Linked DNA regions of Homo sapiens: region 2 is linked to region 1. A link means that fine-mapping ties the variant in region 1 to the expression of a gene that starts in the linked region. Tissue or cell type: nasal epithelium. Region 1 holds a variant in brackets; the other region holds the start of a gene. All regions are shown on one strand. Distances are from middle to middle.

Region 1 (8,105 bases):
AATTTTTTCCTTCATTCCTTTTGGGGAAAACAGTGGAATTTGAACTCCGAAGGGAAATCAAGAGGCTCCAAGAATACAGGACAGCAGGCATTACCAATTTTTGTAGTAAGTATGCTTCAGCTACATACCGTACTTGAGGGCAAGTATCTTCCAGACACACAGAGGAAGTCTCTGAATTGTTGTGAATTTTTTTTTAAAAAACAAGCTTTCCTTTACCAGAATGCTTTAAACCTTTCCAGTAAAGTTTTGGCTATTTAATCCCTATAAATACCTTTGTATAGATTATCTTTGGTACTACAAAAGTTGTGAGACAAAGGAAAGAGAGGTGCTGCTTTAGATTTAGGATTCTGCCGAGGCTCTTTAAAAAAAGGGAATCTTGGGCCGGGTGCAGTGGCTCACACCTGTAATCCCAGCACTTTGGGAGGCCAAGGCAGGTGGGTCACTTCAGTCCAGGAGTTCGAGACCAGCCTGACCAACATGGTGAAACCCTACCTCTACTAAAAATAAAAAAACTAGCCAGGCGTTGTGGTGCACACGTTTAATCCCAACTACTCGGGAGGCTGAGGCACAAGAATCGCTTGAACCTGAGAAGCAGTTGTTGTAGTGAGCCAAGATGGTGCCACTGTACTCCAGCCTGGGTGGCAGAGGGAGATTCTGTTTCAAAAAAAAAAAAAAGGAATTTTATATTTTAGGTGTGTCACCCTTTTCAAATTTAATGATACATGGTCTTAGCATTTTTATAAAATAATGAAGCTTCAACTGGCTCCAGGTGCTTGCATCCCAGTTACTTGGGGTAGTGACAATAATTATATTATTAGCAGCTAACATCTATCAGATATTTACCATGTACCAGTCTCTATGCTAACCATTTCACTTGGATCAAGTCAATGAATTCTCATGACAAACTTATAAAGTACCGTTACTTCCATTTAGTGAAGAAATTAAGGTATAAAGAGGTTACAGAGCTAGTTAGTACTAGAACCAGGTCATAAGAGATAGTGTATTATAGTAGTTAAGAGCTTGGGTCTAGACTTAAAAAGCTTGAGTATAAATTTTGGCTCTCCAGCTTGCCAGCTCTGTGATGTGATTCTATCCAAATTTATTTTTCTTTCCTTTTTTTTTTTTCCCTAGAGACTGACTCTTGCTATGTTGCCCAGGCTGGTCTCAAACTCCTGGCCTCAAGCAGTCCTCCCGCCTAGGCCTCTCAGAGTGCTGGGATTACAGGTGTGAGCAACTGTGCCTGGCCTCTATTCAAGTTTTAATTTTCTAAGGTTCTTAGAGTTAGTGTAAAGATTTAATTAGAGATACTGCATATAAGCATAGCACAGTATCTGGCACACAATAATTCCTCAATAAATGGCAGTTTCTGTTGTTTTGCTGTCATTGTTGAAATGATCTTTAGCATTCCCTCCTTCTTCCTATTTGAAGTTTTTGTGATTATTGATAGTTGTCACCTACTATCTATAAGAAATAGTTGGCTTCTTTTTTTTTTTTATTTGAGACGGAGTCTGGCTCTGTTGCGCAGGCTGGAGTTCAGTGGTGCCATCTTGGTTCACCACAACCTCTGCCTTCTAGGTTCAAGCGAGTCTCCTGCCTCAGCCTCCTGAGTAGCTGGGACTACAGTCATGCACCACCATACCCGGCTAATTTTTTTTTTTGTATTTTTAGTAGAGATGGGGTTTATCCATGTTGGTCAGGCTGATCTCGAACTCCTGACCTCAGGTGATCCACCCACCTCAGCCTCCCAAAGCGCTGGGATTACAGGTGTGAGCCACCACGCCCGGCAATAGTTGGCTTCTTAACACAGCCCTGTGGGTGCAACATAGCCTTATGGATGTAAGTTCAGCCTAGTATAATGGCTCTTTAACAGTGGAAACCATTTTTGAAATTAAATTTTGTGTGAGCCCCAATCTACAAATAAGATAAAAGTGGGCTGGGCACGGTGGCTCACACCTGTAATCCCAGCACTTTGGGAGGCCGAGGCGGGCGGATCACTTGAGGTCCAGAGTTCAAGACCAGCCTGACCAACATGGAGAAACCCCGTGTCTACTAAAAATACAAAATTAGCTGGGCATGGTGGCGCATGCCTGTAATCCCAGCTACTCCGGAGGCTGAGGCAGGAGAATGGCTTGAACCTGGGAGGTGGAGGTTGCTGTGAGCCGAGATCGCGCCATTGCACTCAAGCCTGGGCAACAAGAGCGAAACTCCGTCTCAAAAAAAGATAAAAGTGGAATTACTTTGGTTGAACTTTAATGGTTCAATTTATGTGTAGAGCCCAGGACCCGCCGGTATCTGGCAGTGCCCTTTCTCTTTACATTAACCTCTAAGATACTCTTGTGGTATCCTGGGGCTCTGTGGAACCTAGTTTGAATTTTGAAACCCACTGGTGCAGTATTTTGGAATCTGTGAACCTTTGTTAACATGTAGAAAACACCACGCAGCTCTTCTGTTTAGCAAGATGCATATAGAGACTCTGATAACTAATTTTGGTTTCCTGATATTGGCTGCCTCTAAGAAATATGGAGAAGAGGTACTACATGTCAAAGAGAACTCTTTTTTTGTAATTCTAATTGTTTTTTAAGGAAAGGCATATGCTTATAGCACTTGTGTGACTTTGAAAAAATTTATAAAAATAGAAAAAACAGGAAGCAAATATGACTATAGTAAAAGTTGGTTACTTTTTGAGAGTGGAAATATGAGCAATTCTTACTTTCTTTGTACTTTTCTGTTGGTTTTTTTCCCCTTATTTCTTACAGATAGAAAAGGAATACAAATGTTTAATATTTAATACTTAGTATTAAGAAAAGGATTTCAGACTAGGGAAAATCTACTTGGGTCTTGGAGAAATAATTGTGAAAGCAGTTTTGCAAAGGAAACAGACTTTAAGAACAAAACCCAAAACCGGTTTCTTGGTCAGTTAGGAAGCCCTTCAGTTCTGCTGCATTGTCATTGTGGTCATTGTGTTTTCTATACCCCCAGGTGCCAGAACCTACGATCACCTCAAGAAGACACGGGAGGAAGAGCGCCTTAAACGCACTATGCTCTCAGAAGTTCTCCAGTATATCCAGGACAGTAGTGCTTGCCAGCAGTGGCTCCGCCGGCAAGCTGACATGTGAGTAATTACTCCAGGGTGAAGGAGGCATTCTTTCTGGGATGCCTTGGCCTTCACATATATTTTTGGGCACCCTAGATGGCAGAGTAATAATAATTGAGTAGCTGGAAGAATTCAGAAATATTTTAGCAGTCCATCTCAGAAACAGTGCCATACTGACAGTTTTGAGAAATAACTGACCTCCTAGAATCATACTTTACTACTTTGATCCTATTTTTTAAAATGAGTGTATTTTCCCCCAGCCTTCTACCCATGACTTCAACTCTCTCTTCATACCTAGATTTTCACTGGGGAATCATGTTTGTATCCCTTCCCCTTGAGTGGTGTTAGTGGTGTTCTAGATTACAAGCTCTTCTTAACAAATCTGAGGAATTTTTCTTCCTCAGAACAGATTTTCTTTCCTGCTCAATACAGTGAGATATCTGTAAAACATAGTTCAGTCTATCTCATTACACTTCTTCAAGGTGACCTACCTGATAAATGGCACCCAGTCTCACCGGGGCTTTTGGAAATCACCTTGTTTGATATGACCTAAGTTTAAATTCCTCTTCTTCGTTGTAGTGATTCCGGCCTGAGTCCTTCCATTCCAATGGCTTCGAATTCAGGTAATTATTTCTCAGGCCAGAACAAGTCTTAATTGTGAAGTTTGCATCGTAGGGGTTATAGTGACCCAGCAATCTTCCTTCCTCTGTGGTGTCAGGGTGCTTAGGCAGAGTAACAGTAATCAAGTGTTAGCCCAATATATAAACATCAGTATGTTTTCAGAACCTTCATGGCCAGACAGAGACTATCCTCAGAGTGACAGTATAGAGTATAGACAGTATAGAGACAGGGGAAAAAAGAACTTCAGAGAGGTAACTTCTTTATTTTACCAATGTTCATGAGCAGTTAGTTTACTGCAGTTGTGTCTACCACTAATTTTGAGACTTATTTCACAGGAGATAAATTAAAAGCTTTTTATTTTATTATTTTTTATTTATTTACTTATTTTTTGAGACAGAGTCTCGGTCTGTCGCCCAGGCTGGAGTGCAGTGGTGTGATCTCGGCTCACTGCAACCTCCGCTTCCC[G/A]GGTTCAAGTGATTCTTCTGCCCCAGCCTCCCGAACAGCTGGGATTACAGGCATGCACCACCACGCCTGGCTAATTTTTGTATTTTTGGTAGGGACGGTTTTGCCATGTTGGCCAGGCTGGTCTCGAACTCCTGACCTCAAGTGAGGCACCCACCACGGCCTCCCAAAGTGCTGGAATTACAGGCGTGAGCCACCGTGCCCAGCCTAAACTTTTTATTTTTATATAACATGAGCAAAGAAGCATGTTACTTGCCAGAAACATAAGGATTTCTGAGTTAGAGACCTAAAGTATTTCTATTTCTTCGTTTTACCTCTTTGAGTATGTCCTATTTTGAAATTAGTATACAGAGCAAGATTAAGCCATACGCTATCTGATGATCCTTGGTGATTGGTAATCGATGACTGGGAATTGGGGGAGGTATGTCTCAGTAGATTCAGAATCTGGGTCTCAGATTTGTCCGCGTTAGGGACTTTTTTTTTTTTGAGATGGAGTCTCGCTCTGTCACCCAGGCTGGAGTGCAGTGACGCGATCTTGGCTCACTGCAACCTCTGCCTTCCGGATTCAAGCGATTCTCCTGCCTCAGCCTCCCAAGTAGCTGGGATTAGAGGCGCCTGCCACTATGCCCAGCTGATTTTTGTACTTTCAGTAGAGATGGGGTTTCGCCATGCTGGCCAGGCTGGTCTCGAACTGCTGACCTCAGGTGATCTGCCTGCCTCGGCCTCCCAAAGTGCTGGGATTACAGGCATGAGCCACTGCGCCTGGTCACTGAAGGGACTTTTTTTTTTCCCCCATTTATTCCTTTATTTCAAGTGATTTTTTCTTAATATGGAAAGAAGAAAAAGGTATTGTTTTAGGGGAGTGGCTAAGACAGTGAAATCAAAGTTTTATTTTGTAAGTTTCTTACTGCCAACACTCTACCCCCAAAATCTAAATACAACTAAGTTAATACTGGCTAATTAAAATGAAGGAACTGGGTCAGGTGCAGTGGCTCATGCCTGTAATCCCAGCACTTTGAGAGGCTGAGGCGGGCAGATCACCTGAGGTTGGGAGTTTGAGACCAGCCTGACCAACGTGATGAAAACCCATCTCTCCTGAAAAAAAAATATAAAAATTAGCTGGGTGTGGTGGTACACATCTGTAATCCCAGCTACTCCAGAGGCTGAGGCAGGAGAATCGCTTGAATCCGGGAGGCAGAGGTTTCAGTGAGCCAAGATCGCACCATTGCACTCCAGCCTGGGTGACAGAGTTAAGACCATCTCAAAAAATAAATAAATTAATTAATTAAATTAAATGAAGGAACTGGCTAACATGATCATATATTTTTGTTCTCTGTACTATCTGCACTGACTTGTTCATTGTTTCTTTTTTCTTTTTTTGTGAGACAGGGTCTCCCTCTACTATCCAGGCTGGAGTGCAGTATGTGATCATGGCTCACTGTAGCCTCAAACTCCCAGGCCTAAGTGATCCTCCCAGTTCAGCTCCTGAGTGGCTGGGACTACAGGTGAATGCCACCAAACCTGGAGAAATTTTTTTTTTTTTTTTTTTTTTTTTGGTAGAAACAAGGTCTTACTATATCACCCAGGTTGGTCTTGAACTCCTGGGCTCAAGTGATCCTCCTGCTTCAGCCTCCCAAAGTGCTCAGATTACAGGTGTGAGCCTCTGCACCCGGCCTCTTGTTCATTGTTTGTTCCTAGCCTGTGTTAGCCTTTCTCACCCCTTATATTTAGGCTGAGGAGATCTCTTGCTCTCCTTTATGTTCTGAGTTCTTAAGGCAACTATGTATTGGAAGCCTGGCATCTTTGATTGTAGCCTAGCCTCTGGTGACTTTTGTGAGGAACCAAATGGTTTTATCTCCCTTTTTGAGGATTTGGAATAATCCCTTATGCCTTTTGTTGATGTAACAGAGAAGCCTGTTTTCCACCAGTGGAGCTTGTAACAGTCCCTCCCCTTTCTCTGCCCCACTTGAAAAGCAACCTCTATAAAACTTCGACATTTTCTTTGCTTAACTCAGTCTATCCATTCCCAGCTGAATACCAATCCCTAATACACATTCAAAACAAAACCAAAAAAGTTTTGCTCATCAAGCTTCCCCTCCTGGCCAGTGACCTCCTACTTGGGTTTCTTTCTCAGGTGTGTGAGTTGACCTCAGCCCCTGCTTTGCCATATAATGGCTCATTGTTCCTGTTTGTGGATCTTGCAGGTAAACAGGGCTACTTTGGAAGGAACAGATATTCCCTCACATAATAAAAAAGAAGGGCCTTTTGCTGGCCTAACAGTCTTTCTTTGATCTGAAGGCACACAGTACTTGGTTAATTACCATGTTTGCCTTGTACTGCTGGCCGAGTGGCAAGGATTAGGGAATGTCTGTTCTGCAGTTATTATTTCCATTCGTCAGCTGTCAAAGCAGGCATTGTGTGATGTTTCTTAACTGGATGACATCTGGGCATCAGATTTTAGAGTCTCCTACATGGTTAGGAAGAAATAGGTGATAGTCGGGCATGGTGGCATATGCCTGTCTTCCCAGGTAGTTGGGAGGCTGAGGCAGGAGGATCACTTGAGCCAGGGAGATTGAGGCTATAGTGAGCTATGATCGCAACACTGCACTCCAGCCTGAGCAACAGAGTGAGACCCTGTCTCAAAAATAATAATAATAAATAAGAGATAACTACTGTGGTGAGTAGTTACATTTGATGCTAAGGTATGTGTGACTGTATGTGTATTTTAGCAGATTATGGGTAATTCATGTGCCCTGAATATGTAATTCATTTTCAAGTGAATGTTCGGGTGCCCATGTTGTTAGCTAAACAGGCCTGAGGGAATGGGACAGGATTTCCTAAGCTGGATATAGTGATCCTATACCTAACTGGCCTGGCTGCACTGAACTTTTTAATACTTTACACCTGAGAAATTGTCACTCCTATTAAATCTATGCTGTTTCCTTTCTCTGTCTATAGGTAGACGGAGTGCACCACCCTTGAACCTCACTGGCCTCCCTGGCACAGAGAAGCTGAATGAAAAAGAAAAGGAGGTAACAAAAGGGAGGGGGCTGGGAGAAAGAGAATAGGGGCTGATTATTCATTGAGTTGTCATTAAAAATCCATTACAGGGTCAAACCCCTTTTGTTTCATTCATCTAACATATATGCACAGCTCTGGTGAATCCTAGAAGTCCAAGAGCTAAAGAGCCGTTTGTGGCAGATTTCAGAGAATTGCTTACCTTGTCACCCTACCACCATTCCTCTTTTGGGGAAAGCACATGTGGTATGTAGATGACATAATAATAGCAACTATCATCTATTGAGCACTTACCATGTGCTACTCTACTGAGTGCTTTATGTAAATAAAATTAATTTTTTGTAAACCTAAAGTAACTTCTACATGAAAATAGATATTTCCTATTAGAATGGCTGCCTTGAAAAGTTCTATACTTATTCCAACAACATAATCATTATTTAAAACATTTTTGTAAATTGTCTCCAGAGCATGTTTATAAACCTAAGGAAAAGATTTCTACATCATATATAGTCATGTTAATTTTGATTTTAAAAATTATTTTTTATTTTTATTTTTTTTTATTTATTTATTTTTTGAGACGGAGACTTGCCCTGTCACCCAGGCTGGAGTGCAGTGATGCGATCACAGCTCACTGCAGCCTCCACCTCCCAGGTTCAAGCGATTCTTCTGCCTCAGCTCCCCGAGTAGCTGGGACTGGACTATAGGCGCTTGCCACCATGCCTGGCTAATTTTTGTAGTTTTTAGTAGAGATGGGGTTTCACCATGTTGGCCAGGCTGATCTTGAACTCCTGACCTCATGATCCATCCACCTTGGCCTCCCAAAGTGTTGGGATTACAGGCGTGAGCCACCTCACCCGGCCTATTTTTTATTTTTTATTTGAAAGTCTCGCTCTGTTACCCAGGCTGGAGT
Region 2 (8,105 bases), 64 kb before region 1:
TTGTTTTTTTGTTTTTGAGACAGACTCTTGCTCTGTTGAACAGGCTGGAGGGCAGTGGTGCGATTTCAGCTCACTGCAACCTCCACCTCCAGGGTTCAAGCAATTCTTGCGCCTCCCAAGAAGCTGGGATTACAGGCATGCGCCACCACACCCAGCTAATTGTTGCATTTTTAGCAGAGATGGGTTTTCGCCATGTTGCCCAGGCTGATCTTGAACTACTGGCCTCAAATGATCCATCTGCCTTGGCCTCCCAAACTGCTGGGATTACAGGAATGAGCCACTGTGCCTGGCCCCTGAATGCTATGTTTTTAACGACTAGATCTCAGTATTATGTGGGACTAATTTTTCTACAGTATTACAACACTGATTACTGATATTCATTGTTGACAATCATGACATCCAGATCTGGATATTTGCCTTAGCCAGTCTCAAAATTTGAGTTTCAATGACAAAGACACAGATATGTCCTAAATGACTGACCCCACTTCCACTATGTGAAGTTGAGAGTGGTTGTAAAGCTGTACAGCTATAGGTGAAACACTAATGTTAATCAACTATCTGTTGAACAACTACCATGTAAAAGGACAATTTATGCCTTAGAGAGCAATTTAAAATTTTTTTAGAGATGGGGGTCTCGATACGTTGCCTAGACTGGTCTCAAACTTGGGCTCAATCCATCCTCCTGCCTCAGTCTCTCGAGTAGCTGGGATTACAGGTACACACCACTTCACCAGGCAAAGGGCAATTTTAATATTTCTACCATCCATTCTCCACACAGCTGCCACAGTGATTTTTTTTTTTTTTTTTTTTTTGAGATGCAGTTTCACTCTGTTGCCCAGGCTTGAGTGTAGTGGCACAATCTTGGCTCACTGCAACCTCCACCTCCCAGGTTCAAGTGATTCTCCTACCTCAGCCTCCCGAGTAGCTGGGATTACAGGCGCCCGTCACAATGCCCAGCTAATTTTTTTTGTATTTTTAGTAGAGATGAGGTTTCACCATGTTGACCAGGCTGGTCTCGAACTTCTAACCTCAAGTGATCCGCCTGCCTCGGCCTCCCAAAGTGATGGGATTACAGGTGTGAGCCACCGCTCCCAGCCCACAGTGATCCTTTTACAGCAAAGCTACTCCTTTGCTCTCAACCCTTCGTCATATTCTGTCACTTCCCAATAAAATCCAAACCTTACCAGATGATACATGATCTGCCTTGATTTCCATCTAATTTCTCTCATTTGCTGTGCTCCAGCCACACTGGTCTTGCCCTTTCTCCATGCCAAACAAATCCCCATTTCAGGGTCACTGCACTTGCTGCTTCTCTTCTAGGATAGTTTCCCTCTAGAAATCCATGTTGCTCCTTCTCTCATTAAATGATCAGATATTTATGTGCCTCCTTAGCTAAGAGGCCTTCCTTATCTACCCTAACTAAGAGAATCCCCATATCACTCTTATCCTTTTATCCTGATTTATTTTTCCATAAAACTTGCCACATTACTGGGCATTATCTATCATTTAGTAATGTGTATATTGCTTATTGACAGTCTTCCCTACTATAATATGAGCTCCATGAGGCAGAGACTTTGTTTTGTTCACTGCTGAATTCCCAGCACCTACAACAAGCCTACTCACTAAACATTTGTTGAATTAATCTTCAGGATACATCAAATGTAAAATATCCTATCATATATTTATTGATGTGATGCATAGGAAAATGTCTGGAAGGGTACATACCAAAATGTTAATTATTTATTTAACCTGGTGGGAGGTGGTTTTTCTTTCCTTTTCTTTTCTTTTTGAGACAGAGTTTCGCTCTCGTTGCCCAGGCTGGAGTGGAATGGCAAGATCTTGGCTCATTGTAACCTCTGCCCCCAGGGTTCAAGCGATTCTACTGCCTCAGCCTCCGGAGTAGCTGGGATTACAGGTGCCTGCCACCACACCCGCGTAATTTTTTGTATTTTTAGTAGAGACGGGATTTCACCATGTTGGTCAGGCTGGTCTAGAACTCCAGACCCTGTGATCCGCCCGCCTCGGCCTGCCAAAGTGCTGGAATTACAGGCGTGAGCCACCGCGCCCGGCAGGGCTTTTTTTTTTTTTTTTTTTTGGAATGAACTTGTATTATGCATATACCAAAAAAGAATGAAAGGGTTCACACAGGCATAAAGTGTAAGTGAATTCTAAAAAAAGGTTGGGCAAATTTATCAAAGGCAGACTTCTAAATAGATGTAACAGTTATATAGTTCAGATAAACCATGGTTTGAATTCCCTTCCCCAGTACTTCCTAGCAGTGTGATCCCAAGTTATTTATGTCAGTGCCTAGATTTCTTCACCTGGAAAATAGGGATAACAACAGGTGCCTACCTCACAAGTTTTAAATGAGACCGTATGTGTAACCTGCTTTGTGCAATGTCTGGCATGCAATAAGTACTCGACAAATGGTAGCTATTAGAATCATCATTAACAGCAGTAATAAGAGATCTTGGGACATACCTAGCCCTCAAGATTGACATCAGAGTAGACCACCACATCCTCTCATCATTGCGCCTCAATTTGGGCCTCTGAAGCCCAAAGAGGGGATGGTTCTTTCCAAAGAAGACAATTTCGACGTTCCAGGAGCATCTGATTGAAACGCACCCTCTTCACCCCTTAAAATCAGTCTGGTTCATCCACGAGCAGCCCTTCGGGGCCCGGACTGGAGAGGCGCCACGGCTCGCCGTCCCTGGGCCCAGTTCCCTCAGCCTCAATTTCCCTTGCTGCAACAGGGGTGGAGATGGGAACGTTATCCCCAAACCCAGGCAGTCCCGGCTCGGCCCGCCTCACCGCACTCCGGAGGGGACCAAACAGCCCCACGCGCCAGGAAGCCTCAGGCAACGGGCCACGCGCCACACGGGCAAAGTGATTACTGGTCGGATCAAAAGTCAGGCAAGCGGCTCAGCCCCATCCTCCCAGTCCTCGGGCACGGGGACAGCAGCAGGCGCGCGGCGGGGACCGGGAAAAGGCCAAGAGGGCGGTGGCGGGCGCTCAGCACCCGGCGGGGGCCTCCACGGCCGAGGGGCGGAGGCGGCGGGCGCGCGGCACGCGGCGCGCTCGCCACTGCGCCGCCCGGGGGCGCGCACGCAAAGCCCGGAGGCGCGCGCGACCGGCGGCTCTTTGGCGCGGATTAGGGGGTCTCGGCGAGGTGAGGCGCCAGGCAGCGCTGGGCGGGCGGGCGGGCGGGTGGCGGAGCGCGAGCCCCTCTAGCGGGACTAGGGAGAAGCGGGGGCCACGAGGTGCGGCGGGGGAGGAGTCGCGGGCTGCGGGCCCCGGCGGCGGGCTTGACGCGGCAGGCTGGCGGGCCGGCGGGCGGGCAGCGGCGGGCCTCGCCGCTCTGTGGGGGAGGGCGGTGTGGGGCCGGGCCTGACCCCGGGGGCCCGCCCCGCGTCTGGGCGGTGCCCCAGTGCCCCGGCCTCGCCATTTCCCGCTCAGCCCTGGAGCGCGTAGCTCTACCAAGAATGGCCACTGTGCCAGATGCCCCTGACCAGCGTTGCCCATTTGAATTTCCTAGCAGGCCCCCCAAAGTAGGTATTTCAGTACCCTGTTAGAGCTGAGGCGCAGGTAAAATGACTGGCCCAGGCCGGTCCCACCCCGTAAGGATTTGAACGTTGGCTCCACAACTCGGGAGCCTGCGCCTTTCCTCCTCCCAACGTGGACTCCTGCCCGGCGAAGTGCCTCACTTCCTTCTCCCGGTAACTGATTCGAATTTGGCGATTGTTAGTTTGGAGCTAGCGCCAGTGTTTCCACGGAAGTTGGTGTCAGAATGTGGTCTCTTGTGAAAGGGGGAGAAAGAAGATTCTGCAGACTGCAATATTGTGCTTTTTTGCCTTTTTTTTTTTTTCTCCTAGGCTGTACTGCAGTGCAGTGGCACGATCGCGGCTCACTGCAATCTCCGCCTCCCAGGCTCAAGCGATTCTCGTGCCTGAGGCGTGGGCCACCACGCCCAGCTAATATTTGTATTTTCAGCAGAGGTGGGGTTTCACCATGTTGGCCAGGCTGGTCTCGAACTCCTGACCTCAAGTGATCCTTCCGCCTCGGCCTCCCAAAGTGCTGGGATTACAGGCGTGAGCCACCACGCCCGGCCCTACTATTTTTTTATTTTTTGAGATGGCGTTTCTTTCGCCCAGGCTGGAGTGCAATGGCGCCATCTCAACACACTGCAACTTCTGCCTCCCAGGTTCAAGCGATTCTCCTGCCTCAGCCTCCCGAGTACCTGGGATTACAGGCGCCCGCCACCACACCTGGCTATTTTTTGTATTTTTAGTAGAGATGGGGTTTCGCTGTGTTGGCCAGGTTGATCTCGAACTCCTGACCTCAGGTTATCTGCCCACCTGGGACTCCCAAAGTGCTGAGATTACAGGCGTGAGCCACCGCACCCGGCCTCCTACTGTGCTTTTTCGAGTGTTGATCAGTCCCTATTGACTGTGCATCCTTTACTGGACGTCTGTTTTTGTTTTTGTTTTTTGAGAGGGAGTTTCACACTTGTTGCTCAGGCCAGAGTGCAACAGCGCGTTCTCAGCCCACCGCAACCTCCACCTCCCGGGTTCAAGCAGTTCTCTTGCCTCAGCCTCCCAAGTAGCTGGATTACAGGCATACGCCACCACGCCCAGCTAATTTTGTATTTTTAGTAGAGACAGGGTTTCTACATGTTGGTCAGGCTGATCTCGAACTGCCGACTTCAGGTGATCTGCCTGCCTCGGCCTGCTAAAGTGCTGGGATTACAGGCGTGAGCCACTGCGTCCAGCCTTGACATCTGTATTTGAAATGACACAGCTATCCCTTGTAAGACACTGCGCAAGTAACATACTCTTTCAGAGCTTGCTTGCTTTTGAAAAAGCAGCTTGCCCCAAAAGTGTGGGAGTGAGGATTCAAAGAATCCCCACACCTTGGTACCCACGGGTACCTAGCAAATTGAAAAAGTTCAGTAAATTTGGCAGTTATTTGATTGCTGCGTTCGTAATACACCCTTGCTAGACTCATTTTTCTTCAGAGCTCAACTTTTCCTGAGAGGACAGCAAAGGGAGACCTACCCCACCCCAAAAAGGGAAAGTTCTTTGATGGCAGCGTTAGCAGAAATGTTGCCCACACTTAGTGATGAATTATTCTCCAAGCTAAAAATTACCAGGGTGAAAAAAATCACTTCAGAAAAGCTAAAGATAAATTAACCTTTTGTAGAATTAACATTTATTAGTCCACTACTATGTGTTTATTGTATTCCTCCTGTATGCTTGGCATTTTAAAAGCATACAGATAGGTATCCGATATAGTCTCTGCTTTCACTTATTTATTATTTATTTTTGAGACAGGATCTTGCACTGTCGCCCAGGCTGGAGTGCAGTGGCACAATCTCGGCTCACTGCAACCTCCACCTGCCTGGTTCAAGCAACTCTCATGCCTCAGCCTCCCGAGTAGCTGGGATTATAGGCGCCCGCCACCACGCCAAGCAAATTTTTTTGTATTTTTGGTAGAGACGGGGTTCTCACTATGTTGCCCAGGCTGGTCTGAAACTCCTGACCTCTGGAGATTCATCTGCCTCAGTCTCCCAAAGTGCTGGAGTTACAGACATGAGCTACCACACCCAGCCTGCTTTCACTTAATTTAGAAGTGGGGGAAAATAGACATTCAGAAGTAATACTCACAAAGTAGAATGTGAAAAATGCCAGATAAAAAGCTGTGAGTGGGCCGGGTGCGGTGGCTCATGCCTGTAATCCCAGCACTTGGGGAGGCTGAGGTGGGCAGATCGCCTGAGGTCAGGAGTTCGAGACCAGCCTGGCCAACATGGTGAAACCCCGTCTCTACTAAAAATACAAAAATTAGCCAGGCCTGGTGGCCCGCGCCTGTAATCCCAGCTAATTGGGAGGCTGAGGCAGGAGACTCGCTTGAACCCGGGAGGCGGAAGTTGCAGTGAGCTGAGATCGTGCCATTGCATTCCAGCCTAGGCAACGAGAGCGAGACTTAGTCTCAAAAAAAAACAAAAACAAAAACAAAAAGCTGTGAGTGTACAGAAGAAGGATTATTTTTTGACTTAGTGTAAAATATTATTTTATTTCTGCTTCAAAGAAGATACTTTGGGCCAGGCATGGTGGCTCACACTTGTAATCCCAGCACTCCAGCACTTTTGGAGGCCGAGGTGGGCGGATCACTTGAGGCCAAGAGTTCGAGACCAGCCTGGCCAACATGGTGAAACCCTGTCTCTCCTAAAAATACAAAACAATTAGCCAGGTATGGTGGTGGCACATGCTTGTAATCCCAGCTTCTCAGGAGGCTGAGGCACAAGACACAAGAATCAAAAATGAGAACCAAATGGAGAATGAGAATCCCTTGAACCTGGGAGGCAGAGGTTGCAATGAGTACTCCAGCCTGGGCAACAGAGCCAGACTGTGTCTCCAAAAAAAAAAGAAAAAGAGACTTAGTCTGTCCTCCAAGCTGGAGTGCAGTGGTGGCTCACTGCATCCTCGACCTCCTAGGCCCAAGCGTTCCACCTCATCCTCCTGAGTAGCTGGAACCATAAGCATGGGCCACTGTACCCGGCTAACTTTTTTTTTTTTTTTTTAAGAGATGGGGTCTCCCTATGTTGCCCAGGCTGGTCTTGAACTCCTGGGTCCCAGTAATCCTCCCACGTCAGCCTCCCAGAGTGCTGGGATTACAGGCATGAGCCACTGTGCCTGGCCCTGTTACGTACTTGTTGAAAGAGTGAGGAACAAATGTATGTTGTAATAGATAGGATTTTTTGGTTTCCAGTTACAGAAACTCGTTCAGTCTTATGATTAAAGTTGAGTTTATTAAAGTTTATTAAAGAGAGAGAAATGAGAGAAGAGTTAAACAGTTGAGCCACCTGGGGCTAGGGATTTCAACAGCCAGAGCACATGGACTGAATTCTTTGAATGAATTCTAGTGAATAACTAAGCTCCAACTGCCTTCTGTCCTTTCATGTCTTACTCAAGATCCAGATTTCTGGAAGAAGAGACCTGGTTGCTTTAGCTTTTGTCAGGGGTGGGGAATGGGGTATTGTGATTGGCAGCCCCACCAGTATCACATGAAATGTGGGAGGGTCAGTTTCCCAAATAAAGATGGCAGCTAAGGAGAGAAATGATGCTGAGTAGAGAAAGCCAACAGTTGTTTATTAGAAATATGTAGCATTTGCCCCTGCCACCCTCAGTGCCCCATAGACCCAGATCCTTCCTCATAAAAAAGAAAAATATGTAGCATTTATAGAGGACCAGGTACCATGCTACATTACTTATATGGATTATGATATTTGATTATAACATTTAATTCTCACAACTTTGGAAGGTAGGCACTGTTATACCCACTACAGAGGAAGAAACAGGTTTTCAGAGGTGGAATAATTTTTCAACATTACAAAGCTAAGATGTGGCAGAGCTGAGTATGTTGCATATCTTCTCTTTATCTTGTCCCTTTGAATGATTTTCTGATCCATGTGCCACTTTTGTTTGTTCCTAGGGAGTCATCAAGCTTTGGTGTATGTGTTGGCCGGTTCTGAAGTCTTGAAGAAGCTCTGCTGAGGAAGACCAAAGCAGCACTCGTTGCCAATTAGGGAATGGACCGTTTGGGTTCCTTTAGCAGTAAGTACAGTGGGAACAAGTCTCAGGTGACTTATTATTATTTTTTTTTTGAGATGGACTCTCCCTCTGTTGCCCAGGCTGGGGTACAGTGGCATGATGTTGGCTCACTGCAACTTCTGCCTCCCGGCTTTAAACGGTTCTCCTGCCTCAGCCGCCTGAGTAGCTAGGACTACAGGCGCGCACCACCACACACAGCTAATTTTTTTTATTTTTATTTTTAGTAGAGATAGGGTTTTACCATGTTGGCCAGACTGGTCTTGAACTCCCGACCTCAGGTGATCCACCCACCTCGGCCTCCCAAAGTGCTGGGATTACAGGTGTGAGCCACCACTCCCGGCCTTCAGGTGACTATTAATAGCAAACTAGAGTGGAAGTTGATCAAGGAAGAAAAATAAACGATGAAGTTAGGCAATAAAGCCCTTTGACTCTGATTCTAAGGGAATTATGAGTATCAAAATAAAATCAATTAATACATATTGATTACCCATTGAACAC

What was found. PIP is the estimated chance that this variant, and not a neighbour inherited with it, causes the effect.
Region 2: TADA2A starts here. The variant in region 1 is fine-mapped to the expression of TADA2A in nasal epithelium (TOPMed, PIP above 0.99). The same link has a PIP of 0.9 or more in amygdala, cerebral cortex, fibroblasts, hippocampus, hypothalamus and lymphoblastoid cells.

The regions. Positions count from the first base shown.
Region 1 is chr17:37,467,421-37,475,525 of GRCh38, forward strand. It overlaps TADA2A (transcriptional adaptor 2A), which reads left to right. Exons shown (of 16, transcript NM_001166105.3): 12 at 34-105; 13 at 2,980-3,112; 14 at 3,674-3,717; 15 at 7,136-7,209. Among named protein-coding and RNA genes, the nearest start is that of DUSP14, 18 kb to the right of the region's middle. The variant G/A (reference allele first, on the strand shown) is at 4,181.
Region 2 is chr17:37,403,781-37,411,885 of GRCh38, forward strand. TADA2A (transcriptional adaptor 2A) reads left to right here and starts at 3,106. Exons shown (of 16, transcript NM_001166105.3): 1 at 3,106-3,169; 2 at 7,489-7,610. The coding sequence starts at 7,586. ACACA (acetyl-CoA carboxylase alpha) reads right to left here and starts at 3,056. Exons shown (of 56, transcript NM_198834.3): 1 at 2,482-3,056. The coding sequence starts at 2,519. RefSeq lists an enhancer at 4,238-4,922.